Linked DNA regions of Homo sapiens. The protein of the gene in region 5 purifies or fractionates together with the protein of the main gene of each other region. This does not show direct contact. Each region holds a gene or a part of one and is shown on either strand. Other genes may lie near its edges. The genes, in order: ARID4B, MIER3, PHF12, ING2, HDAC1, DNTTIP1 and CTNNB1.

Region 1 (2,389 bases), about 200 Mb from region 5:
TAAAAGAATGCCTAGGCTGGGTGTGTTGGCTCCCGCCTGTAATCCCAGCACATTGGGAGGCCAAGGTGGGTGGATCACATGAGGTCAGGAGTTTGAGACCAGCCTGACCAGTACGGTGAAACCCCGTCTCTGCTAAAAATACAAAAATTAGCCAGGAGTGCTGGCAGATGTCTATAATCCCAGCTACTCGGAAGGCTGAAGCTGGAGAATTGCTTGAACCCGGGAGATAGAGGTTGCAGTGAGCTGGAGATTGCGCCACTGCACTCTAGCCTGGGTGACAGAGCAAGACTCCGTGTCCAAAAAAAAAAAAAAAAAAAAGAATGCCTAATACATTCCTTATCTGATTAATGGACTTTTAATTTTCATAGGTAGAATCTTCCTTTTTTTGTGTATCAATTAATCCCCTGTGATAATACGTGCTGGATATGTATGTTCCAGTCAGTCATCACATACAGAAATGAACTAAAATTACTAAATCTTTTAGAAACAAAAATCAAGGATTCACAAACTATGGCATTTTATTTCAGAGCCTTTGCTTACATTTGTACAATATATTACATAATTCTTCATTGTTTGCAGATCCTAATATATACTTTATAGCTTTTATTCTATAAGCTTTTTTCTTCAACATTTTGCTGTCAACAAATCTTTACAGTCCTGTACAAATTTGAATAACTTGAAACCATTTTCAACAAAATTAGTTACTGTAAGCACACACTACAAGACTGAAAATGCTTTTCTTAGAAAAGTTGAATGTAAAGGATTCTGACACGTTAGCATCTACAACAAAACGCATTGAAATTCCCACGTCGTATTGCCAGGAAACAAAGAAAACATGCCAGCCCCATCCAAAAAAAGTACACAGAACTACAATTAAAACAGTAAAACAGTCTGTACAATAAAGTACTGTGTATTAACAGTGCCAGATATTAAATAGCTTGAATGAACACATCCACAATATACAAATGTCTTACAAAGGTGAAGAATTAAATACAAGTGCCAAACAGAACAGAGATTGGAATCATACAACATAAAGTCAATACAAGTGAAAACAATTTTGCATTCATTTTGGATTTTATACAAGGCATTTAATTTTATAGGCCTACCACCCCCATTAGCTATTTATATTTAAAATAACCACCATCCTTTTGAGACAGTTCCTATCAACAATCTTGAACCATACTAATACATTACTTGTTCCTGAAGTCCTTTTGTTGTAGCTCATAATAAAATAAGCAATACAAATGAATTATCTGTATTTAAGGGAAAAGAAACATTTACAAGAAAACACAAAAATATAACTGTTATAATTCATTATGAATAAATATACACTTTGAACTGGCTAAGTACAATCTTTATACATTGTTTAAGATTTAATACAGTTTATTAGCCATTTTCTTTTTTCACACAATGTATATCAAAATTAAAAAAAAATACTGATTTATAGAAAAATGGCAAAGTACAGTAGTTCCATTCCAATTTGAAGGGCCATGAAAAGCCACTGCAAGACCTTTTAGCCTAATTCAAACCTGTAAACATGTTCAGTCTTTTTTAAAGAGAATCTTTAATATTTGGTTACCAGGATTGATGTCTAATATCCTGTTAACTGCAGGTTTTGAATTTATTACATGTGCTTGACTTATACAATTAAAGCCACCCTAAGGTGACTTGCTTTAAAAAACAATTACCTTGTACAAATGAAAATAGGTTCATATTTTTTCATAAATAAATGGAAAAATATCAAATGTTCCAGCTTTAACAAAATACAAGGGAATACATATACAGTAAGTTATCTTAACATGTTCTGACCCACCCCTTAACTATGCTTACTGTATTGTCTCTACAGGCAGTGAAAAGCCTCCATTTGCCACAGTGGAAGGCCTTCCAGTTACCAGACACACAATTCCCAGACAAGTTGGAAACAATTATTGCTTGAGGAAAAGCAGTTCATTGTACTTTTTCTTCATAAAAAAGTGCACTTAAGTGCCAAGTCAGCTTGTCAAGAAACAATTTTTAAATATAAAATAGTGCTTGTCTGATATTTTTTTGTGCCACTGTGCAGTATAAAAAAAAAGTGGCCCTCAACAGCCATTAAGTGCAAAGTGCTTTAGCAAGTCCTGCTGTCACCTGCACTCAACTGACATTCCATTTTGTGATGCGCTGGACATTGACGGTTCAGCTAAAGTTAACATAACAGCAGCTGTTATGGAACTGGATGAAGGTGAAGAGGAGGATGAGGATGTAGCAGCACCTAAGGAAAAGGGAGACCAAACCAAGAGCTTAATAAAAATTTATGTCTAACAATAGACAGAAAATACTAGTCCTCTGAACTAAAATTCCGCTATATTGTCCAAAATCATTTAGCTTACAACAACAGTGGTCAATTCTC
Region 2 (4,976 bases), on a different chromosome or scaffold from region 5:
GCACATCTGAACATCATCAGCTATGTTTTGCTTCCCCTGGGATAACTGTCTTTTAACACTTTGAAAGCAGTTTAGGAAAACGGTGTTCCTAGTGGCTGCCATGGCTAACAACCCCAGGGTAACCACTCCTCCCCTCCTTTAAATGGAGGATGACCTGGCATGGAGGAAAGGAAAAAAGAAGGACTCAGGAAGTATTGTGTTGGGTGCTGCTTTTGCCCTTGTGACTTCACAAGGATAAATCAACTTAGGGAAAAGGCCAAACACCCATGGAAATATTCCCAAGTTCAACTAAGAAGGTTTACCTATATTTTTATATCCTACTACCTTATCCCCTCCATATTTTGAAAACCAACTACAGTTGGAATGCACCAAAAACATGAGGAAAAACTGATTACACATAATTAGGAGTATACAAGTGAAAGCAGATCCTTACATTTCACTTCCTGCTCTTTTGGGGCTGGGGAAGGAGAATTTCTTCCAGTCTCTTTTTCCCTCAAGAGTTTTCTTTCCAGAAGATTATATCTTAACATTCTCATTATCTCAGGTGATGAGATCCTACCCACTTCTACTGAAGCAGGATGAAGGCCAAGGTACAGCACCGTGGGAGGCTCCCCATTATTCGAACAGGCACTGAGCACACTGGCTAATAAGCACTATGTGTGCCTTGGGCAGGGTTGGGGGTGGGGGGAAACTCTGAGTCTAGTGATTAACTTTGATACATTTTTCCTAAGTCAGGCCTAAAAATCCTAACTCTGCATGTTTCCCAAATCTATCTATCTATTGCCAAGGCTGGTATAAAGCCAGATATTTAAATACACTTATCAAGTGGTAACCTTATCTACCAAACATTATCAAAATCAAAAGCTTTCCTTACCTTTCTCATTACCATCGTACTCTCCAAGATAAGGGGGAATCTCTGCCTGATATTGTAAACCAATCATTATTTCCTACAGGAAAATTGAGAGGTAAAAATAACTTATTAAAAAAAAAATACTGAAAAAAAGCCCCATATCATTAATCAGTTTCTACAAGTCAAAACAACAAAATTATCATAAATCATTTCAGAAATATTTTTAAAAGCCAATTTAGTCCACTATATTAACTCAGCTTACCTTCCTCAAATCTTCAGGTGAATTACCACTGTCTGTTTCAACATCTTCAACCTCTGATTCCTTATCACCATCACATGCAGTATTTGCTTAAAAGACAAAAATTAAAAAGGTTTTTACTGCCTATTTTTGCAGAACCTGGAAGAATGCCTGTTGTATTTTACAAAATGTTGTTAAATATGTGAGATCAGCATAAGTATACTAAACCACCTGCATGTTTCTCACAATCGACATTGGTCAAAATGAGACACTGAAAATCCTAATAAAGTGTATAGTATCCTGGCCGGTGCAGTGGCTCTCATGGCTGTAATCCTAGCACTTTGGGAGGCTGAGGTGGGTGGATCGCTTGAGGTCAGGAGTTTAAGACCAGCCTGGCCGACAGGCTCTACTAAAAATACAAAAAAATTAGCCGGGCGTGGTGGGGGGTGCCTGTCATCCCAGCTACTCGGGAGGCTGAGGCAGGAGAATCGCCTGAACCTGGGAGGCAAAGGTGGCAGTAAGCCAAGATCACGCCATTGCACTCCAGCCTGGGCAACAGAGTGAGACTCCATCTCAAAAAAAAAAGTGTATAGTATCCTGATAATTATTATGGTATACTATTAAATAGTTTGGGAGGTAAAAGGAAACCACTGTGGTCACCTTAAAAAGAAAGTAAAACACTGGAGTTCTGATTATACTAATCCAGGAGATACACACACAGAGTTGCATATCAGGTCCATCAAAACTGTTTTTGTACACACACGAATGCATGGATATTTGAACTTATTGACCAAACAGTTCTTCTATCATAAAAATACCTAAAAAAAAAAAGTGAGATTGCATCTAAGAAATTATTTTAGTCCAAACATTTTATTTATTTATTTTTAGAAACAGGGTCTCACTCTGTCACCCAGGCTGGAGAGCAGTAGCCTGTTCATGGCTCCCTGTGACCTCAAAGTCCTGAGCTTCAGTGATCCTCCTACCTCAGCCTCCCAGATAGCTGGGACTACATGTGCATGCCACTATGCCCAGCTAAGTTTTTTATTTGAAAATTTTTTTGTAGAGACAGGGTCTTGCTATGTTACCCAGGGTGGTCTAGAACTCCTGGCCTAAAGTGATCCTCTCATCTCAGCCTCCCAAAGTGTTGCAACCACACAACCAACCCCAAAACCTTTTAAATATTACTGATAAACATTAAGAGGTAACACCAAGAACTAATAGGAAAAAGATGAATCATTAAAAGTAAAAATACCTTTTGAGCACTGATAAGTTTTCAAAACCAGGAGAGCAGGAGCCTTTTAATAGAAATTCAAATAAAGGTCTATAAAATTTTGTGGTCAAACTAAGAATGATTACCATAGCAACAGATGAGTCTTGAGAAGGAAAATGGCCTTGTAAAAATAAAGTCAATATTTCCATTTTTATTTTATCTTATTATTATTATTATTATTGAGACAGAATCTCTCTCTGTCACCCAGGCTGCAGTGCAGTAGCATGATCTCCAGCTGGCTGCAACCTTCACCCCCAAGGTTCAAGTGATTCTCGTGCCTCAGCCTCCCAAGTAGCTGGGATTACAAGTGCATGCCACCACACCTGGCTAATTTTTTGTATTTCTAGTAAAGAACAGGTTTCACCATGTTGGCTAGGCTGGTCTCAAACTCCTGGCCTCAAGTGATCTGTCTGCCTCGGCCTCCCAAAGTGCTGGGATTACAGGTGTGAGCCACTGCACCTGGCCAAATATTTCAATTTTTAAATGGCATATTAGTTCACCTCTATCCCAAAAGAAAGGTTATAATCTTGTTTAAATTATAGAAGTATTTTATCTCAACCACATAAAATATTAGAATATTCTGACACAAATTACTGAACACAATAAAATGTACTAAAGCTACAGTATCAATGTTACTATTTATCAGTAATCCACTGGGTTTCTTACATCGTAAAGGCCTAGGGAAGAAATCAGAAGTTTCATGGGAAGTCACAGATGGCGTCAGATCATCCGCAGAAGACTGAGTTTCCTCGTCATCACCTGACAACAGGTCTTTTGCTATTTCCTCCTGGAAGAATAAGAAGGCAGTGCTACAGTTAGAAATGATTACATCTCATTAATTAAGAAAACTATCTTTTTATAACATATCATTAAGAAGCAGTTGGAACCTTATGAGAGAAATATGAAATTCTCCTATGATTTACTTCATGTACATAAATATTTAATATTATATATTATATAATATTCAATAATATACTATTAAATGATAATCAGTGCAACCATATACTAAAACAATTGCCTAATTTGTGGGTATGCAGAGAGCTTATCTAAAGCTGTAGGCTAATTTTTAGTGAATTTACAACAAAAACAGTCTGACTTTTAAGTGGTTAACAATTATATTCATTTTCTGTCAATAATAAAACTGAAAAAATGCCTCCAACCTCCACTCTTCCAATAATTTAAAAGTCCGACTAATGAACAGCACTGACTACTGACATAATTTTAAAAGAAACAAGTTTGAATTAATTTTTATGTAAGTATACAGTCATCCTTGTGCCTAGCACAAAGTAGCCACTCAATAAATACTTGTTGAATGACTATGGTCATTAAGGTCTGTGGTACATTAATATCACATTGACTTAAAAGTGGGAACAATATAACTCACAGGAAGAGGTTCCAAGATGTGGATTCCTCTCCCTGCCTGAGATCTGAAAGGCAAGGAAAGGTTCCCAGGGATCTGTTAGCAGAGGCCATGGCCGTGTGAATTTTCCTCAGCAGGGACTAGGCCTCCCCACAACCAGCCTACGTTAGAGATGGATCACCGCGGTCTTGGCTGCTGCGGCCGCTGTCACTCCCAGAGCCAAGAAAACAGAACTTCTCTCCAACCACTCCACGCCTAAGCCAGCTTGGTTTGAAGGCTTCTGGGGGATTTATTAATCAAGGCTTTTATGTGTTTATAGGATCAAAAGAAGTTAAGGCAAAATCTAAGTTTAGATACAATGTGTCTACACAGGAAAGATGAAAACATTATGGGAGAATATTCAGGCATGCAAAGTACCATGAAGCTGCTATTAATACTACTCTTAACATAGGGTGATCAAAGCCAAACAAAGTTTAAATCAGCCACCAAAATAAGCACAATGGGTCAACAAGAAGTTTACATTTAAGAATTATTAAATAATACTTTAAATGGAAGTAAAAGCAGTCAATGGTAACAGACCCTGAATTTTTCTTTCAAATGCTCACACTTACTTTGTCTAGTGTCATGTCTGGTAGTTCATCTGCCAGTTCACTTGGGGAACTATTTGCACTGGAATTTGCAACTGCTGGAATTGTAGGTTCATAGCCATAGAATGCCAGTAAATCTTCTAGAGGCATGGTTCCTTCCTGTTCAAGCCAGGGCATAAACACGGACTCAGCAGATGTCACAATACTGAACTGCAGGTAAACTGTACTGTCCTTAGGTTCAGAAAGCACATTATCAAAACAGCAGAACAAATCAAAGGCAAGTTTCAGTTTTTCTTTTTGTGCTGTTGTCAGAAAACAGGACCAAACACCTGGAGCTATAATTAATGTATAAACAACAGCCTAACAATTAACACCTTAGTTTTTATTTTCTAGAAGCATTTTACTATTTTAAAAATTCCTCAAATATTTGCTTTAGTGCCTTTTTTTTTGCTTTCAAGTTAACATAAAGATTTGCCCTGAAAACATTTCCAATTAATCAATCAATAACTTGTAATTCACAGCTTCTTTCCTTGCATTTAACAGCTGACCACTTGCTTTATTCTTCATGTTAATTAGAAGACACCTGGTAGAAAACCTTTGCTGAATGTTTACTAACATCAGCAATATTTATGTTCAAAGAACAATTATCCTTTTATATTCTTACTACATCT
Region 3 (4,976 bases), on a different chromosome or scaffold from region 5:
GTACCACTCTGAAGCCCTGTCCAGTGCCAGTCTTACACCTTTCAGGCTAAAGCAGAAGACAGAACGCAGTGGTTTCTGTGTTCTGCAGGCCTTAGACCTTGATGAAGGAAAGTGGAGGCCCCACCTGCTATTTCCATTTCTGAGCCTCCTTTTCCTCAGCAGACCCCAGAGTGGATGGTCCCTTGAGCACCAGCACCACAGACAGAACAGCATACCAGGGCAGAATCAACTAGACATGTTGGAACTATCTCCCTCTCCTTCCTCCTTCTATCTATCCTGAACAGGTTCCTGATGCTATAAAATCTCAGTACCAGTTTCCACCCCCTCTCATTGCACCCGCGGCCATTCGGGACGGGGAGCTGATCTGCAATGGGATCCCTGAGGAATCACAGATGCACCTTTTGAACTCTGAGCACTTAGCCACCCAAGCAGAGCAGCAAGAGGTGAGTGAAGGTGGGGCGGGGATTCCAAATCCAACCTTCCTTCTGTGTCACCACAGCTGTTATCAGAAGTAGCCTCAGTGTCATTCTCATTCCAGTCCCCACCCACCCTCATCCTAACCCCTCAAGAGTTGAGTATTCCAGGGGGAACTTCTGGCTCAAATCCCAAAGGCAAGTAAGAGATCTACAAAGGCAACTGGTCTGCTTCTCTCCATCGTTACCCCAGTGCACTGTGAGATGGGCAAATCTATACTGTAGAAAGAGATGAGTAGACCCATAGAGAGGTTAGGTGATAGTGCTGGACATACCACAGGTGCTCGGGGTAATTGCTGAATATTGGTCACAAGTAAGCCTTAAAGGCAGAGTCAAAATGCAGATCCCAAGCTCTGTTGGCCAGAGGGAGTGTTGGCCTGCTGAGGGTACCTATAAGTCTTGCTTGGGAATGGAAATGGAATTCTATCAGGAGTCAAGCACACCCTTTGTGAGCATTCATGATGGGACCTCGGAAACTGCTTGTCAGCTCTGCTGCAGCCCTGGCCACTGTGGCAGGAAGGACCGGCGCCTCTCAGGCTTCTCACCCCCCTCTCCTCTCCTTCCATTGCAGTGGCTCTGTAGTGTTGTTGCGCTCCAGTGCAGCATATTGAAACATTTATCTGCTAAGCAGATGCCTTCGCATTGGGACTCTGAACAGACAGAGAAGGCTGATATTAAGCCTGTTATTGTGACTGACAGCTCAGTCACCACCTCCCTGCAAACAGCTGACAAGACACCTACACCTTCCCACTACCCCTTGTCCTGCCCCTCAGGGATTAGCACCCAGAATTCCCTGAGCTGCTCTCCACCCCACCAGTCCCCAGCCCTAGAGGACATCGGCTGCAGTTCTTGTGCGGAAAAATCCAAGAAAACCCCTTGTGGGACTGCCAATGGGCCAGTGAACACAGAGGTGAAAGCTAATGGCCCACACCTCTACAGCAGCCCTACTGATTCCACGGACCCCCGGCGACTTCCAGGCGCTAACACCCCACTACCAGGCCTCTCACACCGGCAAGGCTGGCCCCGGCCCCTCACGCCACCAGCGGCTGGGGGCCTTCAGAACCACACCGTCGGCATCATTGTGAAGACAGAGAATGCCACTGGCCCCAGCTCTTGCCCCCAGAGGAGTTTGGTTCCTGTCCCAAGCCTGCCCCCTTCCATTCCCAGCTCTTGTGCCAGCATCGAGAACACCAGCACTTTGCAAAGAAAGACTGTCCAATCACAGATAGGACCTCCGTTGACAGATTCAAGGCCACTGGGCTCACCCCCAAACGCCACCCGGGTGCTCACTCCCCCGCAAGCAGCAGGAGATGGTATCTTGGCCACAACAGCCAACCAACGATTCAGCTCACCAGCGCCATCGTCAGGTGAGTGCTGCTCAGCCTTGGGTTGATTTGGAATAATTTTATGCTCTTTCTGGCAAATAAGATTCTAAAAGCACTTATATCCCTGTGAATACTTCAGAGGACTTTGGCCTTTGTATTGTTTGTCTTACTCTCATTTCCGTAATAGAAGAGGAAGCACATGTTAACTTGTCCCGTTTATAAATGGGACTGCTTAGGCTCTGAAAGCTTCAGTGATTTCCTTAAAATGACCTACTGAGTCAGTGGCAGGATTGGAACCACAGCCCAGGTCTCCTGACTCCATCCCATACCTTCCAGGCCTAGGCCTCTGCCTGTTTTGTTCTGTCACCTTAAAAGAAGGCAGGGTGCTCTCTGGAATTACTATGATCAGCCTGAGGTTCTGCGTGATGGCCTCAGTATTGTCAGATCCACACAAAAGAATGGATTCATGCCTGATGCATATTCTCAGAAAGAGTTAATCTGATGAACTTCCATGTCAGGAAGCAGGGCTAGACAGCAGCACTGTCTTTCAGAGGAGCTGTAGAGTGGGATGCCCACAGGGATTGTTCTAGCCCAGAAGCGTGCCCTCAGGCCACATGCCAAAGGGCGGTCCTTCAGGTCTGTACTTGGCCTACTGTGGACCTGCTCTCTCAGCTGTCCCCAGAGAGCACTCAGGACCTTGAAGTTGCTGACCCCAGCATCTGAACCAGGTTTCAGATGCTGCCGGAACCCTCTGTGGTCTCTCCCGTCTGAACTGAAGCCGGCCTCCTAGTCAGCTGGGAGTCTCGGTAACCAGATGATTGTGATTTCTCTGCATGGGAGCCCCTGGTCCCAGGATGGCCCCGCTCCCAGGCTGTTTTCCTATCTCTGTTTATCGCTTAAAACCAGCGTGGGTAGATTCTCCACGCCGTGAGTCATATTTCAGTAGGCAAGAATTATAAGGGCAGGCACTACTTATTTTAAAGTAGAGGCAGCAGGGAGGTGGTCATGGCCCAAAGAATGAAGCTGCCCCACCACTTTCCCCAGAGCAGTGGATTTCAGTGGTTCTCAGTGCTCTGGAGACTCCTGCGTGCCTGGGTGCTTTGTCGTTCCATCTGCCCTTCCTCACCACACGTTTTTAGCTCTAGGAGTTCCAGAGCCTATGGGTTGAGAATCAAGAAGGGAACATCACCTTGGGTCCGAAATCCAGACCTGTCTCAGCAGTGGGGGATTGGACGGTGGGTTTCCCTCAGGCGACGTAAGTAACAGTCTTCCTGCTCCGTCCCCAGATGGCAAGGTCAGCCCCGGCACGTTATCCATAGGAAGCGCTTTAACCGTACCCTCTTTCCCAGCCAACTCTACTGCCATGGTGGACCTCACCAACTCACTTCGAGCATTTATGGATGTCAATGGAGGTGAGTGAATGAGCTGCTGCTGTTCCACCGTTTGCTATGTTGAAGGTGCTATTCCTATACAGCATTCAGCTCATTTCAGAAAGGGAGGGAAGGGACACCTGATCCCAGAGGCCTAGGGGGAGATGGGAATGAGGAGTATCCTTTTGGATGGGGGGGCGGGGTGAAAAAGAAAGCTCCTTCTGTAGCTCTGCCTTCTACATGTGCATATACACATAATCAAAGATGAAGGGAGGACAGAGCCAAGCTGAACCAGTGAGACGAGAACAAAATCACTTTAGGCAGATCACCTGGATTTGCAGAATAAAACTAAGATCCTCACTCCCAAAGGAGGGACCTCATCTGTGGGAAACCCCCAAAGTCCAGGAGAACAGGGACAGATCTTGATCTCTGTGAACACAAGGTGGGTAGAAAGTTCAAGTCTCAATATCAGACATCCAGGCCCTCCCCCACAGACAGGCAAGTGGTTTATTCCACTCTGCCTTTCTAGGGGCACTTTAATTAAAATCAGTCCACCCAACTACAGGAGGCAGCTGCACAGGCTGCATTGGGGCCCATCTCACTGCAAATGGCAAGTGAGATGCCCAGCTGCAGATCCTTGTACGCTCTGCACTCAATGCTGTTTGAGTAAAAATCACTTGGCTGGATTTTAGAAATGCCAAACTATTTGCTCTGTGACCCTGATTTGCTTCCACATTCCACTTCCCATCTCAGCTGCTTTTTAATCTTTCTCTTTGGCTAATAGAAATCGAGATAAATATGCTGGACGAGAAGCTGATCAAGTTTCTGGCCTTGCAGAGAATACATCAGCTTTTCCCCTCCCGGGTCCAACCTTCACCGGGCAGTGTCGGGACACATCAGCTGGCTTCTGGAGGGCACCACATAGAAGGTGCGCATGTACACACCTGTCACCACATCATCAGATCTCCCCTCTACGTGTGCGAATGGTCACCTTGCCTCCATGGAGAATCTGAGCTTCCAGTATCTCAAACCTCCTTGTGTGCTTTTCATGGGCTTAATAAAGCACCATGGTTTTTTTCTGAAGAGAGCAGGAACAAGATGGCAACCACAGCTTTCTGATCAGACTTGGGGAAGTCTGCTGTAACTTTCTTTCATATATAAGTCCACTTCGAGACACAGCAAAGCAGCTACCAGTACCTTTGGGTATATGTAGTGTACTTTCTGCTTACTTGCTTTCAAATATTTGAATTAGAAGGGCTTCCCGACTGAGTGCAGTGGCTCACACCTGTAATCCCAGCACTTTGGGAGGCTGAGGCGGGAGGATCACTTGAGCCCAGGAGTTGGAGACCAGCCTGGGCAACACAGTGAGACCCTATCTCTACAAATAATTTTAAACTTACCCAGGCATGGTGGCATACACCTGTAATCCCAGCTGCTTGGAAGGCTAAGATGGGAGGATCGCTTGAGTCTGGGAGGTCAAGGCTGCAGTGAGCTATGATTGTGCCACTGCACTCCAGCCTGGGTGACAGAGTGAGACCCTGTCTCCAAATAAATAAGTAAATAAATAAATAAAATTTTAAAAAGAATGGCTTCCCAAGAGGGAACTTTTCAAGTTCAAGTTGAGAAATAGAATAACACTAGGCCAACCTTCTGGAAATTTTCCCCAAGTGGTTAACTCTGTTTCAGATATGTCTGAGCATTGGCCATTAAGAGCCTTGCTGCTTCAAAGTGTGGTTCGCAGACCAGCAGCATCAGCAGCCCCTGAGAGCTTGTTAGAAATGCAGAGCTCAATGCATTGGTTTTTTGCC
Region 4 (3,912 bases), on a different chromosome or scaffold from region 5:
CCAGGTTCCCTATAATATTGTATACACAGTATCCAGAGTGACCTTTATGTCAGACCATGGCTCAAACCCCTCAATGGCTTCCCAAGTTTCCTACCATGGCTTCCAAGAGTCCCCAGTTCCCAGCCCCTTGTACACTGTGCTCTAATGCCCTGCTTTAGTCAACCTGCCAAGCTTGTTCCCTCCTCCCTCCCTCAAATCTTTGCCTGCCTTATTTCTGCTCTTAGCTCTAAGGATTACTTCCTTAGGGACACCTTTTTAAATTACCATAAATAAAAGACTTGCCACCCCCCCTTCCATTCATTTCCAGCCCTTTACTCAGTTTTCCTTTCACTTTAGCAATTTACCTGACATTTTATGTATCTGACTCCTCCACTAGAATGTATCGTCCACAAGCAGGGATATTTCCTTTTTACACCACAACTGCTTAAAACGGTGCCTGGCACATTAATTAGCACTCAGATGTTGAGTATTCAGGCACTGGTGGTGGAGCCACTGGGGGCAGGAGATACTCTCATGTGTGTATAAGCATCTGTATCTGCTTCAGATTTGCATAAATCTGGATGTAGATAATCCACAGCAGCTTTCAATAAGTTGAAAACTGTGAAATGTGGCAGTGGTTCCAAAACATTTCCATATATTATAATGGGGATCTTTTAAAAATTCTAATGCTTAAGCCACATTCCAAATGAATTTAGATCACAATTGCTGAGGGTGGGGCACAGATATCAGTATTTGTTGAAACTCCCAGGTAATTCCAACGTTAAGTTTGGGAACCACTGGTGTATACAGTATGAGTTGGTAACCATGATATGAGATCCAGAATACTCAACAAAAGAAATTCCAGTCCTAATGCTACGCATGCTTAAGACTTCTATTTCCAAGATGTGTAGAAAACAAAACAAAAAAGTCATAAAACTGTTTCAGATATTAGGTCTTAAAGAGAGCACACCTTCCAGGATTTTCCAGGTTCGTTTTCCCGTCAAGTCTAATCCAAACTTTGGCATTTCTATTAGGAAGTCGTTTCTTTTCTCCCATCTGCCAAGGCAGATTTACGTATGAAAAAGTGGTGACTTCTATGTAAGTCGCATCTGAAGGCTTTGGGGGTTTTGTCCATACTGATATTTTTAATGGTGTCAAGTAAAAAGCTCCATTCTGGTAACAAGGTTGTAATCACTAAAACAAAATGCCATATTCTCAAAAGGATTTCCTTACAACTCAGCTAAGTTATGGTGATGAGAAAGGATTTGCTAAATTCTTAATCATGCTGTCTAACATTTCTCACTCAAAAGGTAATAGAATCAACTAGCTCTAGTCATGAATCCAAATATTCTTAGGACAGAAGCTAACAAATATTGCACATTTACCCATCTCCAAACTCACCTTTAAACTATCTTTATACCTCAGAATGAAGGACAAAATTAATGAAAAGAGAAGTCATGTCATTATTAAAATCCTCACTATAGTGCAAATAGTAGAAATTTCCAAGGAATCTCGGAGATATTTAAGCCAACTCATTTTACAGGTGAATGACCTGACACCCAGACAAGGTGAAATGACATGCCTAAAAGTCACACAGGAGAGCTAGAAGAGAAAAAAAGCATTTTTTTTTCCCAAAACAAGCAGACAGGATTTTTCATGTTAATCAAAAAGAATCAAGATCATCAGATTAGGAAGAAATGAGGAATAAAACATACGTTACACACAGATTTAAAGAACTAGTCAATCTGCTGCCCCCAAAACCAAAACCTTCTCTAAACATATGGACATATATCCATCAAGATGCTTACCCTTCAAATATCAGAATCTTGGAAAATTCAATTTACAAATACATTAATTGCATTATGATGATGAAATAAGTTAATTAAATGTGAAAACATCAAACAGCACCAATACTAGAAGTTAAGACAGTAAATACACTATTATTTAAAATAGTCACTGATTGGGACAGAAATGAACAATAACCACTAGCAAAACCATTTAAAACAACTCTCTGACATAAAGGCAATATTTAAAGACTACTATATGCCCCTTTCCACTGATAGGCCTGTGGCTACGCATCCTGGCAGCAGGTCACATGGAAAATACTATTAATTAAGATGTATTTTTAAATTGTTCAACCTTGAGCCGTGATACTATATAACCCAAAGTTTGCCAATGTAAGCCAATGTATATTTTTGGTATGCTAACTACTCTTACCTGTCCCAATTAAAAGAAAACACAAAACAACTCCCTTATTAAGCACTAGACTAAGTATATCTACAAAGCAGCAGCAAGGCATTGACAAATGGGCTACTGACAGTGGATCAAAATGCTACTAAGCAAAAGACAGCAGCACGTACTCTCATAAGAGCACATTATTCCACATGGAATCCCAAATTACTCTTATCTCCAGTTCCTTAAACTCCTAGAAGACTAGAGATGAACAAGCCAACGTATAAATAGGACTAGGGAAAAAGCAGCTCAAATGGCATAGTGTCTGTATTTTAAAGTACCCAAGATCATTTGATGCTTAAGAGAAATCCCACTACATCTAACATTTTTTTAAGCATGTATAACTAAAATGCTAGTGAAACTTTTGTGTTTACCCAAAAAATAACATTGCAGTTTTAAGTGAAAATGAAATAGGCATGGTTTGTGAAATTTTTATAATGTTTACACCACCCTCTTCCTGTTCCCTGCTCCTTTCATCAGGTGATCTGAAGACTACCTGGTTGGAAATATTTGGTAACTCAGTGCAGAAAATTAAGGTCACAGACAAAGTACAACAACTTTTAATACACCATTAATACTAATGATTAAAAATTATTGCATAGTCTTATGCATTTACCCTAAAACATTTTCTGAAAGCAAACGAATTATATAAAAGACAAATAACCCTTTAAAATGTGGATGGCCTTTACTACCTCGATCTTCTATCCTTTTTTGTCTTTTCAGTACTTTTGTCCATTGTTTTCTCATTATCTCCCCTGCACTTTGGGCAATACCATTTCCCCTTTGGTTTATAGGTAAGTGAAACACATGAAAAGTGAAACCATTCAATTGGACACTGTTCATTGTCACATCCTATCATCTCCCCATAAGACACTTGGTTGCATAAGCAGTATGTAGGTTCATTAGGATCTATTGCAAACTCAACAGGTGAAGCTTCCCTTTCCTGCTTGGCCTTGGAGCGTTTCTTTTTCTTTGCTGACTTGGATTTCTTTTCTTTAGGTGGCTGATCATCACAGTCTTCAATCCCATTTGCCATGTGACATAAATCACGGCTTTCACTGGTCCGCTGCCTGCGGGGTCTTCTTGAAGATCTTTCTGGTTGGCTGGAATCCATCTTTGCTTTATCTGAGGCTCGTTCACTTTCAGCAGGATCTTGGAAACACTGTGAGTGTAACTCCATTTGTCTTGCCCGATTTTCCACCAATTCGAGCATTTGTGTAACAATCTGTATTTTTTCATCTCCCAATTCTTGACTATTAATTAGTGCTCTCTGGAGAAGCTGCTGTAGACGTTTCTTCTGGTTTAAATCATCTTCTTTCTTATATTTTTCGTAGACATCATCAATTTCCTTTAACGTTTCTAAAAAAAGGAAAAGAAAAATGAGAACGTTATCATGTGTTAGCAGACACAACATTTCCAAGGTAGTTATTTTTTACAGAATTGAAATTAGAACTCAAACCATGAAACCATACTCCTCTTTGGTACATATACATTAAAAACTATTTCATACAAAGACCACATTATCTAATATGAAAGTATAGTTAGAAATAAAGTAATGAAAAGAAAGAACACAAAACTAATACTCATTAATCTATATTAAAAAGAGGCTGGGCGCGGTGGCTCACGCCTGTAATCCCAGCACTTTGGGAAGCCGAGGCAGGTGGATCACCTGAGGTCAGGAGTTCAAGACCAACCTGGCCA
Region 5 (4,976 bases):
GGCTCACACCTGTAATCCCAGCACTTCGGGAGGCTAAGGCAGGAGGACCACTTGAGGCCAGGAGTTCAAGACCAGCCTGGGCAACATGGAGAAACCCCATCTCTACCAAAAACATAAAAATTAGCCAGGTGTGGTGGCAGCTGCCTGTAATCCCGGCTACTTGGGAGGCTGAGGCACAAGAACCACTTGAACCCGGGAGGCAGAGGTTGCAGTGAGCTGAGATCGCGCAACTGCACTCCAGCCTGGGCGAGACAAGAGTGAGACCCTGTCTCAAAAAAATAAATAAATAAATAAGTAGGGAAACAGGTTCAGAGAGGTGAGCTGTTAGTAAATGGCAGAAGCAGTATGCAAGCCTCAAGCTTTGGTTTGTCTGTTTTTTTTTTGAGACGGAGTTTTGCTCTTGTTGCCCAGGCTGGAGTATAGTGAAGTGATCTTGGCTCACTGTAATCTCTGCCCTCCAGTTTCAAGCCATTCTCCTGCCTCAGCCTCCCGAGTAGCTGGGATTACAGGTACCTGCCACCACACCTGGCTGATTTCCGCATTCTTAGTAGAGACGGGGTTTCACCATGTTGGCCAGGCTGGTCTCAAACTCCTGACCCTGTGATCCGCCCGCCTCGGCCTCCCAAAGTGCTGGGATTACAGGCATAAGCCACCGTGCCCAGCCAGCCTGTCTGTCTTAAAAGCCTGTGAAAATATATCCCGGCCCTTTTCCAAGTCCTTTCACATATACAACCTCATTTGATCCTCACAACAACTCTATGAGCTGGACAAGCCAGATATCAACCCCACTGTGCGGAGGAACAAACAGATACCGAGAAGTTAAGTGATTTGCCCAAGGTTATAAAACCAGGCAGTAGCAGAACCAGAATCAGGGTCCCGGTGTCTTGACTCCCGTAGCCCAGTGTCTTACTGCTACATTCACAGTGACAAGTGGAGTAAAGTTATTTCGGGCCTAATGGGGTAAAAGTACCAAGTAGTACATAATGTGGAAACATATGCAAACAATAAGGCAAATGAAATGAAAACAGGAAGGAAAGCACACCTGGAGGCTGTAGACTCACAGACCTAGAGGAACTTTATAGCTCCAAATCTCCTCTTACAGAAAAGGTAACTACTGGCCGGGCGCGGTGGCTCACACCTGTAATCCCAGCACTTTGGGAGGCCAAGGCAGGTGGATCACTTGAGGTCACGAGTTCAAGACTAGCCTGGCCAACATGGAGAAACCCCGTCTCTACTAAAAATACAAAAATTAGCCAGGCATGTGCCTGTAATCCCAGCTACTCAGGAGGCTGAGGCAGGAGAATCACTTGAACCCAAAACGTGGAGGTTGCAGTGAGCCAAGATTGCACCCCTGCATTCCAGCCTGGGTGACAGGGCGAGACTCCATCTCAGGAGAAAAAAAAAAAAAAAGTAACTGCTGAGACATCAATGAGCTACAGGAAGTCAGAGGCAGGAGGTGTGGGGCTGCATACTTATTCTCTTGCCCAGCCTTCTACTGTACCCACTGTTATCAAGATTTCCAAAAGTAGAGGAAGGAGCAGCCCTGGGGTGAGAGCAGAAGAGCTCAGTTTGGATTGTGCTGGTAAAATCTCAAGACACAGTTGAAGCTCAAGATCTACAATAACCACAAGAGTTACCAGCTCTGGTTCTGCACTAAACTTGGAGGGTGCCAAGATCCGGTGCTCTGAGGAAGAAGCATGGCTGCATGAGGGAGTGTGCAGCGGGTGGGTCTCTTCCTCACTTCCTGGGTAAACACTGGGAGGCTGTGTAAATAAGAACTTTGGTCCCTGGGCCCCGGCTGTTTATCCATTGGCAACTGATTTCCCTCTCTGGCCACTTCCTCCTGCACAGAGTTTGGCCTGCCTGCGTTTCCAAAGCTTTGTTTATACTCTTATTTGGGATATGGAGCCTCCATGGGAAGGAATGGGTGTTTTGGACGTGAGAAAAAAAAAAATATTTTTCTTCAGGCACCAAACCAACATGTAGCTCAAATGACCAGCCCTTTTATTCCTAGTCAATAAGCTATGTGATTAGAGATGGAAAGGGGGCAAATGGAAGAGCAGATACTCATGTGAGCTAATCTGTGAGGGTAGGGAAGACTTTTCCATGGGTTTTCTCTCTTTCTGCTATAAACGCTTTTCTCATTCTCACACTAGCTTTAGACTAAAGGGAAGCAATACTGGGTGAGAGGTGGAAGCAGACGTAGGCAGAGAAGGCAGTCAAATGCTCATTGCAAAGAGATGGGAAGATTAAACACTAACCTCAGGATAGTGCTTATACCTTGGCAGTGCTGGTAATGGGGTGGGGGGCTGGGGGAGTGGGAGAGAAAGGGTATGTGATCAAGGAAAGATGCCCAAGGGGGCATCAACTGTATTGATAATGTTTTCTTTCTCAGGCTGGGTATTGGGCACACATGGATGTTCATTATATTATTATTATTATTTTTTTTTTTTTGAGACAGAGTCTTGCTCTGTTGCCCAGCCTGGAGTGCAGTGGCGCAATGTCAGCTCACTGCAAGCTCCGCCTCCTGGGTTCACACCATTCTCCTGCCTCAGCCTCCCAAGTAGCTGGGACTACAGGCACCCACCACCACACCCGGCTAATTTTTTGTATTTTTAGTAGAGATGGGGTTTCACTGTGTTAGCCAGGATGGTCTTGATCTCCTGACCTCGTGATCTGCCCGCCTCGGCCTCCCAAAGTGCATTATATTATTTTTTGATGCTTTTTGTGTGTGTCTAAAATATGTTTTTTTCTTTTTCTGTTTTTTTTTTTTTTTTTTTTTTTTGAGATGGAGTCTTGCTCTGTCGCCCAGGCTGGAGTGCAGTGGCGCGATCTTGGCTCACTGCAACCTCTGCCCTCCAGGTTCAAACAATTCTCATGCCTCAGCCTCCCGAGTAGCTGGGATTACAGGCATATACCACCACACATGGCTAATTTTTGTACTTTTGGTGGAGACAGGGTTTCACCACGCTGGCCAGGCTGGTCTCAAACTCCTGGCCTCAAGTGATCCACCTGCCTCAGCCTCCCAAAGTGCTGGGATTACAGGCATGAGCTACCCTGCCTGGCCTGTGTATCTAAAATATTTTATATACACTATATTTTTTAAAACTACAGAATTGGGGGACTAGAGTTCCATTCTGCATTCTACCATCACCTTGCTGTGTGACTGGGAAAGTTTACATGTCTGTAAAATGGATGAGAATGTCTCCCAATTTTTTACCAATCCCTTTTATCATGTTTTCACCAAAAGCCCCCTAAATGCATTTATTTGTGTTCCCATTTTCACTTGCTAAATATTAGGTCAGAACTTCTGGTCAAGGCTCTCAAAGTGACCAGAAAGGGTTTATTACATTTCAGCCACAAGCAAGGAAACCTGATTTACTCGATCTTATCATAAGCATAACTTCCTAGATTAGGTGTGTGGGATGTTTTTGTGTGTGTGTGGGTTTTTTTTTTTTTCTTTTTGAGAAGGAGTCTCGCTCTGTCGCCCAAGCTGGAGTACAGTGGCGTGATCTCGGCTCACTGCAAGCTCCGCCTGTCGGGTTCACACCATTCTGGTGCCTCAGCCTCCCGAGTAGCTGGGACCACAAGCGCCTGCCACCACGTCCGGCTAATTTTTTGTAAATTTTTAGTGGAGACGGGGTTTCACCGTGTTAGCCAGGATGGTGTCTCGATGTACTGACCTCGTGATCCGCCCACCTCGGCCTCCCAAAGTGCTGGGATTACAGGCATGAGCCACCACGCCTGGCCATGTGTGTTTTTTTTTTATTGAGACGAGTTCTTGCTATGTTGCCCAGGCTGGAGTGTGGTGGCGAAATGAGACCATACCTCAATGCAGCCCTGAACTGGGCTCAAGGGATCCTCCTGCCTCAGGCTCCTGAGTAGCCAGAATCACAGGCATGTGCCACCATACACAACTAATTTTTTATTTTTATTTTTTTAAGATAAAATAAGAGATGGGGGTCTCACTATGCTGCCCAGGCTGGTCTTGAACTCCTGGCCTCAAGCTATCCCTCCTGCCTTGCCCTTCAAAGCACTGGCATTACAGGTGCATGCTACCATGTCCAGCGCCTAGGTTAGATATTGGTACATATTCTAAAAGGGCAAGTTAAGGATTAAGGAATTTGAGGCTGCAGTGAGCTATGATCTTGCCACTGTACTGTACCCTGGATGACAAAGCAAGACCCCATCTCTAAAAACAAGAATAAAAATAAAAATAATTCTTTTTTTAAAAAGGGCTCATTACTGTCTTGGTAGATACCCCAGGTTATAAAGCACTGTGTTAAGTGACATCTAAAGTCTCTGTCTACTCTGACCCTCCATAACCCTACAAATCAACTCAGTGAGGTACTCTGAAGTTCTTAGAGAGGCTTATTCTTCCTGCCCCCATTTCTGATGACAGAAAAATCCAAGACCTAATTATTTTAATTAGAAAAATTTTTTTTAGAGACCAGGTCTCACTATATTACCCAGACTGGCCTTGAACTCCTGGGCTCAAGAAATCTTCCTGCTTCAGCCTCCTAAGTAGCTGAGACTATAGGCACCCAGACTGAATTTTTTTTTTTTGAGACGGAGTCTCGCTCTGTCGCCCAGGCTGGAGTGCAGTGGCGCGATCTTGGCTCACTGCAACCTCTGCCTCCTGGGTTCAAGCAATTCTCCTGCCTCAGCCTCCTGAGTAGCTGGAATTACAGGCATGTACCACCAAACCAAGCTAATTTTTGTATTTTTAGTAGAGATGGGGTTTCACTATGTTGGCCAGGCTGGTCTCAAACTCCCGACCCCAGGTGATCTGCTTGCCTCAGCCTCCCAAACTGCTGGGATTACAGGCGTAAGCCACCACACCCAGCCAGACTGAATTTTTTAATGTACAACTTTAGAATGCTGGATTCGGAAAAATTGGCGCACCAGAGCAGAACCTGCACACTCCTCAGGGCATAGCATTTTGTCTGCCTTGATAAGTTTGTAAATAATAAAAA
Region 6 (4,976 bases), on a different chromosome or scaffold from region 5:
ATAAATAGAGTAGTAAAATAAAATAAAAGGTAGCTCTCACTGCCAGAAAGGAGATGGCATATCAGTTTGTAAGGCACTTAGATTCTAAAAGGAGCAGTACCTGTGGTGGGAGTGAGTGAGTCCTCAGGTGGGGGACATTGTGTGTGATGGACAAAGCCCTCAACAATAGTTTTTGAACACATGCAATGATGATTTTCCTAAGGTTGCTGTTTCATATGATCTGAGAACTCTTCAAGTAGAGGTAAATCTGGAAGGGGCTGCCAAGTGTGCAAACACATTTCATTGCTAACTCCTACTGACAAGGGTTGCTGCCTCAAGTACTGTGTTGAGAAAAGATTCTATAGCTGTGTCTGGTGGAAGAGTGATCAATGAGTGAAATCTGTCAGTGGGTGCAGTAGTGGGAAAAAGTAGTACTGTGTGTCTTATACCTGCTATTCCTATGGACAGCTAATAGTATCCAAATATGTGATCTTGGAGGCATGAGGTAAAAGTGTGAGGGGGCGGAAGGGAGACCTAGGGATAGGGAAGGGAACCTGAAGATTACAATTTGCTCTTCAGCATGAAGAAATAGGCCTTATAAGTCTCTCTTCTCACACATTGGTGAGGCTTTGGAAGTCAGATTTGGAGGTAGGCTGTCACCCACAGCCAAAATCCTGGTTCCCAGGTGGGGTGGGTCACTGGCAGTGGCACAAATGAATAATGCTTACCATCTTGCCCCCTGTTGCCCGCATGTGATGCTGCTCAGCCAGCCAGTGCTTATCCTGGGGGTCAGCTGCATACTGTAAGGAATGAAGTTGTAAGAAAATTAGCCTCGGGTAAGGGGCTTTTCTCATTTGGTCCCAGAGCATACTCTTGGCCCTTGAGCAGTTCTTACCAAAAGTCCTTGTCTCCAAGCGTGGTGGACTTAGAGGGCTCACTAATCTCTTCAGAGAAAGCTAAGCCAACCCCGAGGGCAGACCATGGGACCCAATTCCCAGAGACTTAGTATACTCCCAATCCCCACCCCCTTCTCACAACAAAGCACCCCGGGCAACTGGTGGGACTGATAACTATTATTTTAGAGCTTCCTCTTTTTAAAAAATGATCGGAGGTGGCTTATAACGTCTGTAATTATTATGGTGACCATAATAAAACAAAAATCGGGACACCTCATGTACTCTCGGACGCATAATAGCATCATGGTTAAGAATTCGGTTTTGGAGTTACAAATAAGGTTGGTTGGTTTATTGATTGATTGATTGATTGATCGATTGAGACGGAGTTTCACTCTTGTTGCCCAGGCTGGAGTGCAATGGCATGATCTTGCTTCATCACAACCTCCGCCTCCTGGGTTCAAGCGATTCTCCTGCCTCAGCCTCCCAAGTAGCTGGCACTACAGGCATGCGCCACCACGCCCGGCTAATTTTGTATTTTTAGTAGAGATGGGATTTCTCCATGTTGGTCAGGCTGGTCTTGAACTCCCGACCTCAGGTGATCTGCCCACCTCGGGCTCCCAAAGTGCTGGGATTACAGGTGTGAGCCACCGTGCCTGGCTGTTTATTTATTTATTGAGATGACGTCTCGCTCTGTTGTTCAGACTAGAGTGCAGTGGCATGATCTTGGCTCACCGCAACCTCCACCTCCTGGGTTCAAGCTATTCTTCTGCTTCAGCCTTGAATAGCTGGGATTACAGGCACGTGCCAACACACCCAGCTGATTTTTGTATTTTTAGTAGAGATGGGGTTTTGCCATGTTGGCCAGGCTGGTTTTGAACTCCTGGCCTCAACTGATCCACCCACTCAGTCTCCCAAAGTGTTGGGATTACAGGTATGAGCTACTGTGCTCAACCCAAATAAGGCTTAAATTCTGGTTTCTATTCTAGGTTGGGCACCTAGAAACCAGAATTTAAGCACCTTAAAAAAAAAATCGAGGAGTGAAGAGAAACTGATATATATATTTTTTGAGACAGAGTATTGCTCTGTCGCCCAGGTTGGAGTGCAGTGGCGTGATCTCGGCTCACTGAAACCTCTGCCTCCTGGGTTTAGGCAATTCTCCTGCCTCAGCCTCCCGAGTAGAGTAGCTAGGACTACAGGAGTGCACCACCATGCCCGGCTAATTTTTGTACTTTTAGTAGAGATGGGGTTTCACCATGTTGGCCAGGCTGGCCTTGAACTCCTGACCTCAGGTGACCCGCCTGCCTCGGGCTCCCAAAGTGCTGGGATTACAGGCGTGAGTCACTGCACCTGGCTGAGAAACTGTGTTTTGCTCTCTACTACCTCCTGTGTATCGTCTGAATCTTTTTACCACGGGAATGGGTTTATATATTATTTCTATAATCAAAACATTTAAAAAAGGAAAAGAATTTGAATAATGCCTTCTGAAGGAGAGAAAAATGGGCAAAAGATATAACAGGCAGCTTACAGAAGAAATACAAATAGATTCTAAATGACTGAAAAGATACTTATAATCACTAATAGAGAATTTGTAAAGTTGGGCCAGGTGCAGTGGCTCAAGTCTATAATTCCAGCACTTTGGGAGGCTGAGGCTGTGGATCATCTGAGCTCAGGAGTTTGAGAGCAGCCTGGCCAAGATGGTGAAACCCCATCTCTACTAAAAATACAAAAATTAGCCGGGCATGGTGGTGGGCACCTGTAATCCCAGCTACTCGGGAGGCTGAGGCAGACAATTGCTTGAACCCAGGAGGTGGAGGATGCGGTGAGCTGAGATCGCGCCACTGCACTCCAGCCTGGGTGACAGAGCAAGACTCCGTCTCAGAAAAAAAAAAATGGTTGGTCTATCACTATTCTCATTTTATACAGGACAAAAACAGACTCAGAAATGTGGATCAATTCCCAGACTTGAGCTAGTTAAAAAAAAAGAAAAAAGAAAAACAAATGTGGAGCCATTTGTTCAAGTTCATGCAGCTAGTAAAATAATGGAACCAGGCCTGAAGCCATACTTTAAACCACGCTGAAGTGGGAATTCAAAGTAGGTCCAAAAGCATATTGATTTTGGGGATGATACAAACAAAGCTCTTGGAGGAGGTGGATCTTAAAGAATAGTCAGGCAGATAAGGGTGGGAGAGAAAGGCCACCCAGGCAATGGGAATAGCAAGAGTGACGACATTAAGAGAGGAAAACAAAGGAGCCACTGGGCAAACTGTTTAAGTGTTGGGACTCGAGGATATCAGACTGGAGAAGAAGCGTGAGCAGGTATGCCTTTCAAAGAACTTGAAAACTTGCACAGAATGTGGTAGAGAAAGCCCGTGATTCTGGGATCCCACAGGGCTGTGCAGTTCTGGCAAGAGGTGCCAAGCCTTACGTATAAGTGCAAAAAACCATGTGTGGAACACACATGCACTGCTATTCTTCTAATCTACTTCGATGCTCTCGTGACTGATAAAATACAAAATCATCTAAGAGGGTGAGTGAGTTTATGATTTCCTCCATTATTCCCTCAAACAGTGGGGACCAAAACATAGCTGCTCTCAGAAGAGGAGTACCCTCTTTGAAAAGGCACAGGACCCTGCCTTGCTCCAAACTCTATTTTTTTTTTTTTGAGATGGAGTTTTGCTCTGTTGCCCAGGCTGGAGTGCAATGGTGAGATCTTGGCTCACTGCAACCTCTGCCTCCTGGGTTTAAGCGATTCTCCTGCCTCAGCCTCCTGAATAGCTGGGATAACAGGCATGCGCCATCATGCCCAGCTAATTTTTGTATTTTTAGTAGAGACGGGGTTTCTCCATGTTGGTCAGGCTGGTCTCGAACTCCCGACTTCAGGTGATCCGCCAGCCTCAGCCTCCCAAAGTGCTGGGATTACAGGCGTGAGCCACTGTGCCAGACCCCAGAGTTATTTTAAAATGCAAATATGAGGGCAGTGTGATCTCGGCTCACCACAACCTCCGCCTCCTGGGTTCAAGCGATTCTCCTGCCTCAGCCTCCTGAGTAGCTGGAATTATAGGCATGAGCCACCATGCCAGCTAATTTTGTATTTTTAGTAGAGACAGGGTTTCTCCATGTTGGTCAGGCTGGTCTCGAACTCCCAACTTCAGGTGATCCACCCGCCTTGGCCTCCCAAAGTGCTGGGATTACAGGTGTGAGCTCACGCACCTGGCCCAAACTCTAATTTACAGACAACCAAATATGGTAGTGGTTAAGAGCTCAGGCTTTGGTGAGGACAGACCTGGATTTGAATCCTGACTCACCATTTCTAGCTGAATAACTGTGGGCAAGTCACTCAGCCTTTCTCAACCTCTGATTGTTTCAAATTTGTGAAATAAGGATGGCAATACTTATTTTTTAAGATAATATAAGTGTGGGATTTAAAACTGTGTTTGGCACCCAGTAAGCATGCAAGCAAAGTAGCTGTTATTACTGAGGCACAGAGGTGTTGAGTAAATCATGAAAGGGAAAGGTGAATGGCAGAGGCACAACTAGAACCCAGATGTCCTGACTCCAAGATCAGTGTTTGTTCTAAGCTTCTCTGTGCTGAGTGGAGTTCCCAGTCTACTCCCAATGCAATGGCCTGCTTTCCTCCCAGCAGTCACCTACCTTAAAGAGGTGTGGGTGCTTGATGTAGATTCTTCCTCTGGTGCCCCCCATCCCCAGGGCTCTGAAAAGTAAAAGCCAAGTGGTCAAGATTCCAGAAAGTGTAGTCCTACTAGTGAACTCCTGAGCTGTTTCCTCAATCAGTGCCAAAGCTCTTAAACTTACTTGTTGGCTCGAGATCCCAACACAAAGGTGGTAGATTCATTCAGGCGAGCTGGGTCCCACTGTGCAAAAAATAGAGAAGCTCGTGAGGGTGAAGTTTAATCTGATGGGTAGGACAGAAACACTCCTCCCCCTACCCTTTTCTAACCCTTCCCCTTGTCTATTATTTAATCAACAGTTGACCCAAGACACTGAGTACTCACAATATGCTAGGCCCTGTCTGTGCTAGATACTGGGGATAAAGAGATGAATAAGATACAGTCTCTGTTTTCTAGGATGCCACCAACATAT
Region 7 (4,976 bases), on a different chromosome or scaffold from region 5:
AACAGTATAGCTTGAAGTTGGGTAAAGTGATTCCTCCAGTTTTGTTCTTTTTGCTTAGGATTGCCTTGGCTATTCAGGCTCTTTTTTGGGTTCATATGAATTTTTAAATAGTTTTTTTTTAATTATGTGAAGAATGCCATTGGTAGTTTGGTAGGAATAGCATTGAATCTGTGAATTGCTTTGGGCTGTATGGCCATTTTAACAATATTGATTCTTCCTGCCATGAAATAGAATGTTTTTTCATTTGTTGGTGTCATCTCTGATTTCTTTGAGCAGTGTTTTTTGTAATTCTCATTGTAGAGATCTTTCACCTCCCTGGTTAGTTGTATTCCTAGGTATTTTATTCTTTTTGTGGCTTTGGTAAATGGGATTGCATTCTTGATTTGGCTTGCAGCTTGGATGTTGTTGGTGTCTAGAAATGCTTCTGACTTTTGTACATTGATTTTTATATCCTGAAACTTTGCTGAAGTTTATTGGATCAAGGAGCTTTTGGGCAGAGATTATGGGGTTTTCTAGGTATAGAATCATATTGTTTGCAAACAGACTTCCTATTTGGATGCATTTTCTTTCTCTTGCCTGATTATGAGCAGTGTTTTGCCCTGATATTCTGTATTCTCAGTGAATAGATGTCGTCTAAGTATGAGAAACAATTTTTTTCTATTCTGAGTATTTTTAAGAAGGCAACTTATATGTGGTACTTTGTATATTGTGTATGTTGGCAATTGGGGAAAAGAATAGATGGTTTGTACTAGGGCCTCTTGGGTTCTGTGTGTGTGTGTGTGTGTGTGTGTGTGTGTCATGAAAACAGTTACTTTTTAGCTACCAAGCATTTTTTCTCCTTTCAGTAACCCACCTAACAACATTTACTCAGAATTTCAAAGCAAGCTTCAAATCAGTATTGAAAGAAGGAAAAATATAAAGGCATTTAATGGAAGAAAATGTTGGGAATAAAGTATAGGGCTGGCAACACTTACTTTTCTCACTTATTGAGAGTAATTTTACTTGGGAATTTATGAGAGAGAAAGACATTATGATTGCTCCAGGTAACTACTGGCAGAGGAACCATAGTCTTGGGGATAGACAAATGTGGCTGAGTTCATATAGAATGAGGGGATGGGATGTAAATTCTGTCAGCTGTTCCAGCAGTAACCTGTAATGTAGGCTAAAAATACAGATTTTGAGATTTATTTAATCAGAATCCCTGGAGTGTTAATTTTTATATCAAGATCTCATAGTGTTTTATTTGAAGTGACAGGGAGGTCTGTAGATAGCTGGACATGTATGGGACTGGAAGCTTAGGAATCTTTAAGTTCTTCCAGGTTATTCTTATGTTCATTTGTTTATTCTGAAAATAGCATCTAATGTATTTTAAGAAATGGAATAGGCACATAGTATACATTGGGTAACACAACAGATAGGGTCCCCGTGCTTAATTCTTAGTCTTGTGAAGGTGACAAAAATACTTAAAAATATGTGATCCTAAATTAGAATGAGTGTTATGGGAGAAATGACAGCAAATAGTGATGAGAATTAATGGGGAGGGGAATTGTCTAGATGAGAGGGAAAAGGTCTCCTTGAAAAGGGGATGTTAAGTGGGACTGCAGGATGAGAGGGAACCGTCTCTTGTCTATATGAGAAGTGAGGGTTAAACGTTTTCCAGGTAGAGAAAAGGAACACCATGTGCTATGTCTTAGAACCAGGGATATCCAGTCTTTTGGCTTCCCTGGGCCACATTGGAAGAAGAATAATTGTCTTGGGCTACACACCAAATACACTAATGATAGCTGATGAGCTAAAACAAAAAAAAATTGCAAAAGAATCTCATAATGTTTAAGAAAGTTTACGAATTTGTGTTGGGCTACATTCAGAGCTGTCCTAGGCCATGTGGCCCATGGGCTGCAGGTTGGACAAGCTTGCCTTAGAAGGAAAGAGATTGGTCAGGCACGGTGGCTCACGCCTGTAATTCCAGCACTTTGGGAGGCTGAGGTGGGCGGATCATGAGGTCAGGAGATCGAGACCAGCCTGGCTAACACAGTGAAACCCCATCTCTACTAAAAATACAAAAAGTTAGCCGGGCGTGGTGGCAGGCGCCTGTAGTCCCAGCTACTTGGGAGGCTGAGGCAGGAGAATGGTGTGAACCCGGGAGGCGGAGCTTGCAGTGAGCTGAGATAGCGCCACTGCACTTCAGCCTGGGCGACAGAGTGAGACTCTATCTCAAAAAAAAAAAAAAGGGAAAGAGATTGTGGAGATCCAGGTGCTGAAGAGAAGGTCTGCATAAACAGAACTTAGTAATGAGGTGGATGGCCTGGTATGAGGTTGAGGTTAGGTAAGCAGAGCCATAACATGCAGGACTTTCTAGGTTCCTATAAGATAGTTACTACTCATGGAGTTTATTCATGCTTTATTCCAGCTTTGGAGCCATAGATACAGAATACTTTGGTCAGTTTGGAAGGCTAGGTGGGATCCAAATTCTAAACGGTTCCTCAGGGTTATACTAAAGTATTTCTATTATCTTAAAAGGATGCTGAGACACTTTCGATGGTTGTTTATCAATAGCAAAGCATCACAGTGGTGTGTTTAAAATATTAATAATAGCATTGTATAGATTAACAGTTTGAATGACCAAAAGCTAGAAGACCAGACTACTGAGATGTTACAGGCTTTTAGGAATGAAATAGTTTGCTTTTAGAACTCAATAGCAAAGGGCAGATGTCTGAGATGCCTGAAAGAATCATAGAATGTAATAATATAGGAGCTAAGGGAGCAACCAAAAACGGTTTGTGGAGGGGACAACATTGGTACCATGAAGATAAATGGAACCCTCAGAAGGCATCCTTAATTTTTGAACATAATAATTTAAGAAGCTGACTTAAAGTGACTTAAAAGGTCAGTAGGTAGCTGGAAATGTATGATACTAGAATGCAAGAGAGGCAGGCTAGAGATTTGGAAGTTTCCCTCTTAGTATATAGGGGTAAGGGCAGCAGGGAAGGGGAGGTAGAGGTGCCACAGAGTCATCTGTATGGGACTTTTTTTTTTACCCTAGAACTGCTGAATCAGAATGTGTGTGTTTTAAAGTCTCTGTAGGCCATTCTGATGGACATCTGGGGTTAAAATCCATTCTCTTAGAGTTAATAGTTATGTAAAGGGAGGGAATGAAGTCTTAAAGAGGGGAAAGAAGGTAGTCATTTCACAAATACTGAGCATCCTGATCATCAGTCTTACGCAGATCATTCTATTAGTAGCTGGAGCTACTATGAAAAAGGAACCCAACAGAGGTGATCTTTGTCTTGTAGGGAAAGTGGAGTAACTTACACTATGAAGGAGAAGTGCAGGGTACCATAAGAATTACAGCAGATAGACCTCATCTGAGGAAATAAAACAGACCCGAAAGATGAAGGAGACAAGGAAAAGTATCTCTTACTGCATTCAGAAGTGATTTAAGTTGAAGATGGATGAGCGAAGTTAATCTACTATGTGGGCATTGGGCTTCCATTTATACTCCTTTGCCAGAGTAAATGTCCCCCATTTAAGGGTCCTAAAGGATGGAAGATTGTAAACCTTGGAACACATGTTTTGTAGTCAGTGAATTGTATAAAGTCCCTGACAGTAAGTGTTTTCATGCCGTCTTTCTGGATTGTTCTTACCCCAGGAATTTACCTAGCTTCTTTAGGTCTTTAGTCAGATGTCACCTTCACAGTGAGGTGACCTAATTATCTATTTAAAATCGCAGCCCCACTCCATTATTTTTCTCCATAGCCCTTTAATATCATCTGACATACTGTATGGTTTTAGTTTATTGTATATTTTTCTGCCTCTTCCAACTAGATCATAAATTCTGAGGGTAGGAACTTCTGAATATTTTTGTTCACTGGTCTATCTGCAGCTCAGAACAGGACCTGGTACTGAATAAATATTTTTGAAATGATTGAATGGATGAAAAGAAATGAGTAATAAGAATATTACCTAAGGGGGACAGTGGAGATAACAAAGGCTTTTTCGGCTTAGGAAAGGAACAGTAGCTATTTGAGAGTTTGTCACTAGTGAGGTGAACTGGCAAAGTGAAGGAAACTGAGCAACATTCTAGAAAATGAGAGGAAATCAAATACTTAGGTGAAAGGAAGTAAACTCTGGAAATACAGAAGGACACCTCCTAAGGCTAGAACAGATATTTAGGATTGATAGGCACTTCTAGCTAATGACTAGGGCCTTATATCCTTTTTAATTTTCTAGGTGGAATGCAAGCTTTAGGACTTCACCTGACAGATCCAAGTCAACGTCTTGTTCAGAACTGTCTTTGGACTCTCAGGAATCTTTCAGATGCTGCAACTAAACAGGTAAATTCTGAGTAAACTGGTGCCATGGGAATAGAGTCAAGATGAGTATGTGCTTGTACTGACCATCTGTTTTTATCTCCATAGGAAGGGATGGAAGGTCTCCTTGGGACTCTTGTTCAGCTTCTGGGTTCAGATGATATAAATGTGGTCACCTGTGCAGCTGGAATTCTTTCTAACCTCACTTGCAATAATTATAAGAACAAGATGATGGTCTGCCAAGTGGGTGGTATAGAGGCTCTTGTGCGTACTGTCCTTCGGGCTGGTGACAGGGAAGACATCACTGAGCCTGCCATCTGTGCTCTTCGTCATCTGACCAGCCGACACCAAGAAGCAGAGATGGCCCAGAATGCAGTTCGCCTTCACTATGGACTACCAGTTGTGGTTAAGCTCTTACACCCACCATCCCACTGGCCTCTGATAAAGGTAAATTGTCAAAGTAGAATTTACCTTTGTTGCAGAATTGAAAATGAAGCATCTCTAGCTGTTGGATGGCTGTCTAAGCATAGTGATCAATAAGTAGGAATTGTATTCCTTAGTAAGTAGGAAGTATGGCTGCGATAGGGGTAAGATTCTGAAATGTTTGTGTAGTCAGAACTACTTTTAGTTGATACCAATAGATTTAGTGTGGTGGGAATTTTAGGG

Evidence for each region.
Region 1: the proteins of HDAC1 (region 5) and ARID4B purify together in Homo sapiens (co-immunoprecipitation; 8 studies listed by BioGRID and IntAct, with this or other methods). This does not show direct contact.
Region 2: the proteins of HDAC1 (region 5) and MIER3 purify together in Homo sapiens (co-immunoprecipitation; 5 studies listed by BioGRID and IntAct, with this or other methods). This does not show direct contact.
Region 3: the proteins of HDAC1 (region 5) and PHF12 purify together in Homo sapiens (affinity purification with mass spectrometry; 8 studies listed by BioGRID and IntAct, with this or other methods). This does not show direct contact.
Region 4: the proteins of HDAC1 (region 5) and ING2 purify together in Homo sapiens (affinity purification with mass spectrometry; 8 studies listed by BioGRID and IntAct, with this or other methods). This does not show direct contact.
Region 6: the proteins of HDAC1 (region 5) and DNTTIP1 purify together in Homo sapiens (co-immunoprecipitation; 8 studies listed by BioGRID and IntAct, with this or other methods). This does not show direct contact.
Region 7: the proteins of HDAC1 (region 5) and CTNNB1 purify together in Homo sapiens (affinity purification with western blotting; 6 studies listed by BioGRID and IntAct, with this or other methods). This does not show direct contact.

The regions. Positions count from the first base shown.
Region 1 is NC_000001.11:235,166,402-235,168,790, forward strand, and holds the end of ARID4B (AT-rich interactive domain-containing protein 4B), read right to left. Parts: intron 2,252-2,389; coding exon 2,124-2,251; 3' UTR 501-2,123; downstream 1-500. UniProt on the Homo sapiens protein: Acts as a transcriptional repressor. May function in the assembly and/or enzymatic activity of the Sin3A corepressor complex or in mediating interactions between the complex and other regulatory complexes.
Region 2 is NC_000005.10:56,934,554-56,939,529, forward strand, and holds part of MIER3 (mesoderm induction early response protein 3), read right to left. Parts: intron 4,465-4,976; coding exon 4,330-4,464; intron 3,146-4,329; coding exon 3,025-3,145; intron 1,199-3,024; coding exon 1,113-1,198; intron 948-1,112; coding exon 875-947; intron 1-874.
Region 3 is NC_000017.11:28,909,346-28,914,321, reverse strand, and holds part of PHF12 (PHD finger protein 12), read left to right. Parts: intron 1-284; coding exon 285-443; intron 444-1,044; coding exon 1,045-1,840; coding exon of another isoform or gene 1,841-1,866; exon of another isoform or gene 1,867-2,178; intron 2,179-3,084; coding exon 3,085-3,210; intron 3,211-3,952; coding exon 3,953-4,096; coding exon of another isoform or gene 4,097-4,287; exon of another isoform or gene 4,288-4,976.
Region 4 is NC_000004.12:183,509,940-183,513,851, reverse strand, and holds the end of ING2 (inhibitor of growth protein 2), read right to left. Parts: intron 3,571-3,912; coding exon 2,900-3,570; 3' UTR 1,423-2,899; downstream 1-1,422. UniProt on the Homo sapiens protein: Seems to be involved in p53/TP53 activation and p53/TP53-dependent apoptotic pathways, probably by enhancing acetylation of p53/TP53. Component of a mSin3A-like corepressor complex, which is probably involved in deacetylation of nucleosomal histones.
Region 5 is NC_000001.11:32,318,709-32,323,684, reverse strand, and holds part of HDAC1 (histone deacetylase 1), read right to left. Parts: intron 1-4,976. UniProt on the Homo sapiens protein: Histone deacetylase that catalyzes the deacetylation of lysine residues on the N-terminal part of the core histones (H2A, H2B, H3 and H4).
Region 6 is NC_000020.11:45,804,917-45,809,892, reverse strand, and holds part of DNTTIP1 (deoxynucleotidyltransferase terminal-interacting protein 1), read right to left. Parts: intron 4,748-4,976; coding exon 4,689-4,747; intron 4,588-4,688; coding exon 4,527-4,587; intron 780-4,526; coding exon 708-779; intron 1-707. UniProt on the Homo sapiens protein: Increases DNTT terminal deoxynucleotidyltransferase activity (in vitro). Also acts as a transcriptional regulator, binding to the consensus sequence 5'-GNTGCATG-3' following an AT-tract.
Region 7 is NC_000003.12:41,229,111-41,234,086, forward strand, and holds part of CTNNB1 (catenin beta-1), read left to right. Parts: intron 1-4,230; coding exon 4,231-4,334; intron 4,335-4,418; coding exon 4,419-4,757; intron 4,758-4,976. UniProt on the Homo sapiens protein: Key downstream component of the canonical Wnt signaling pathway.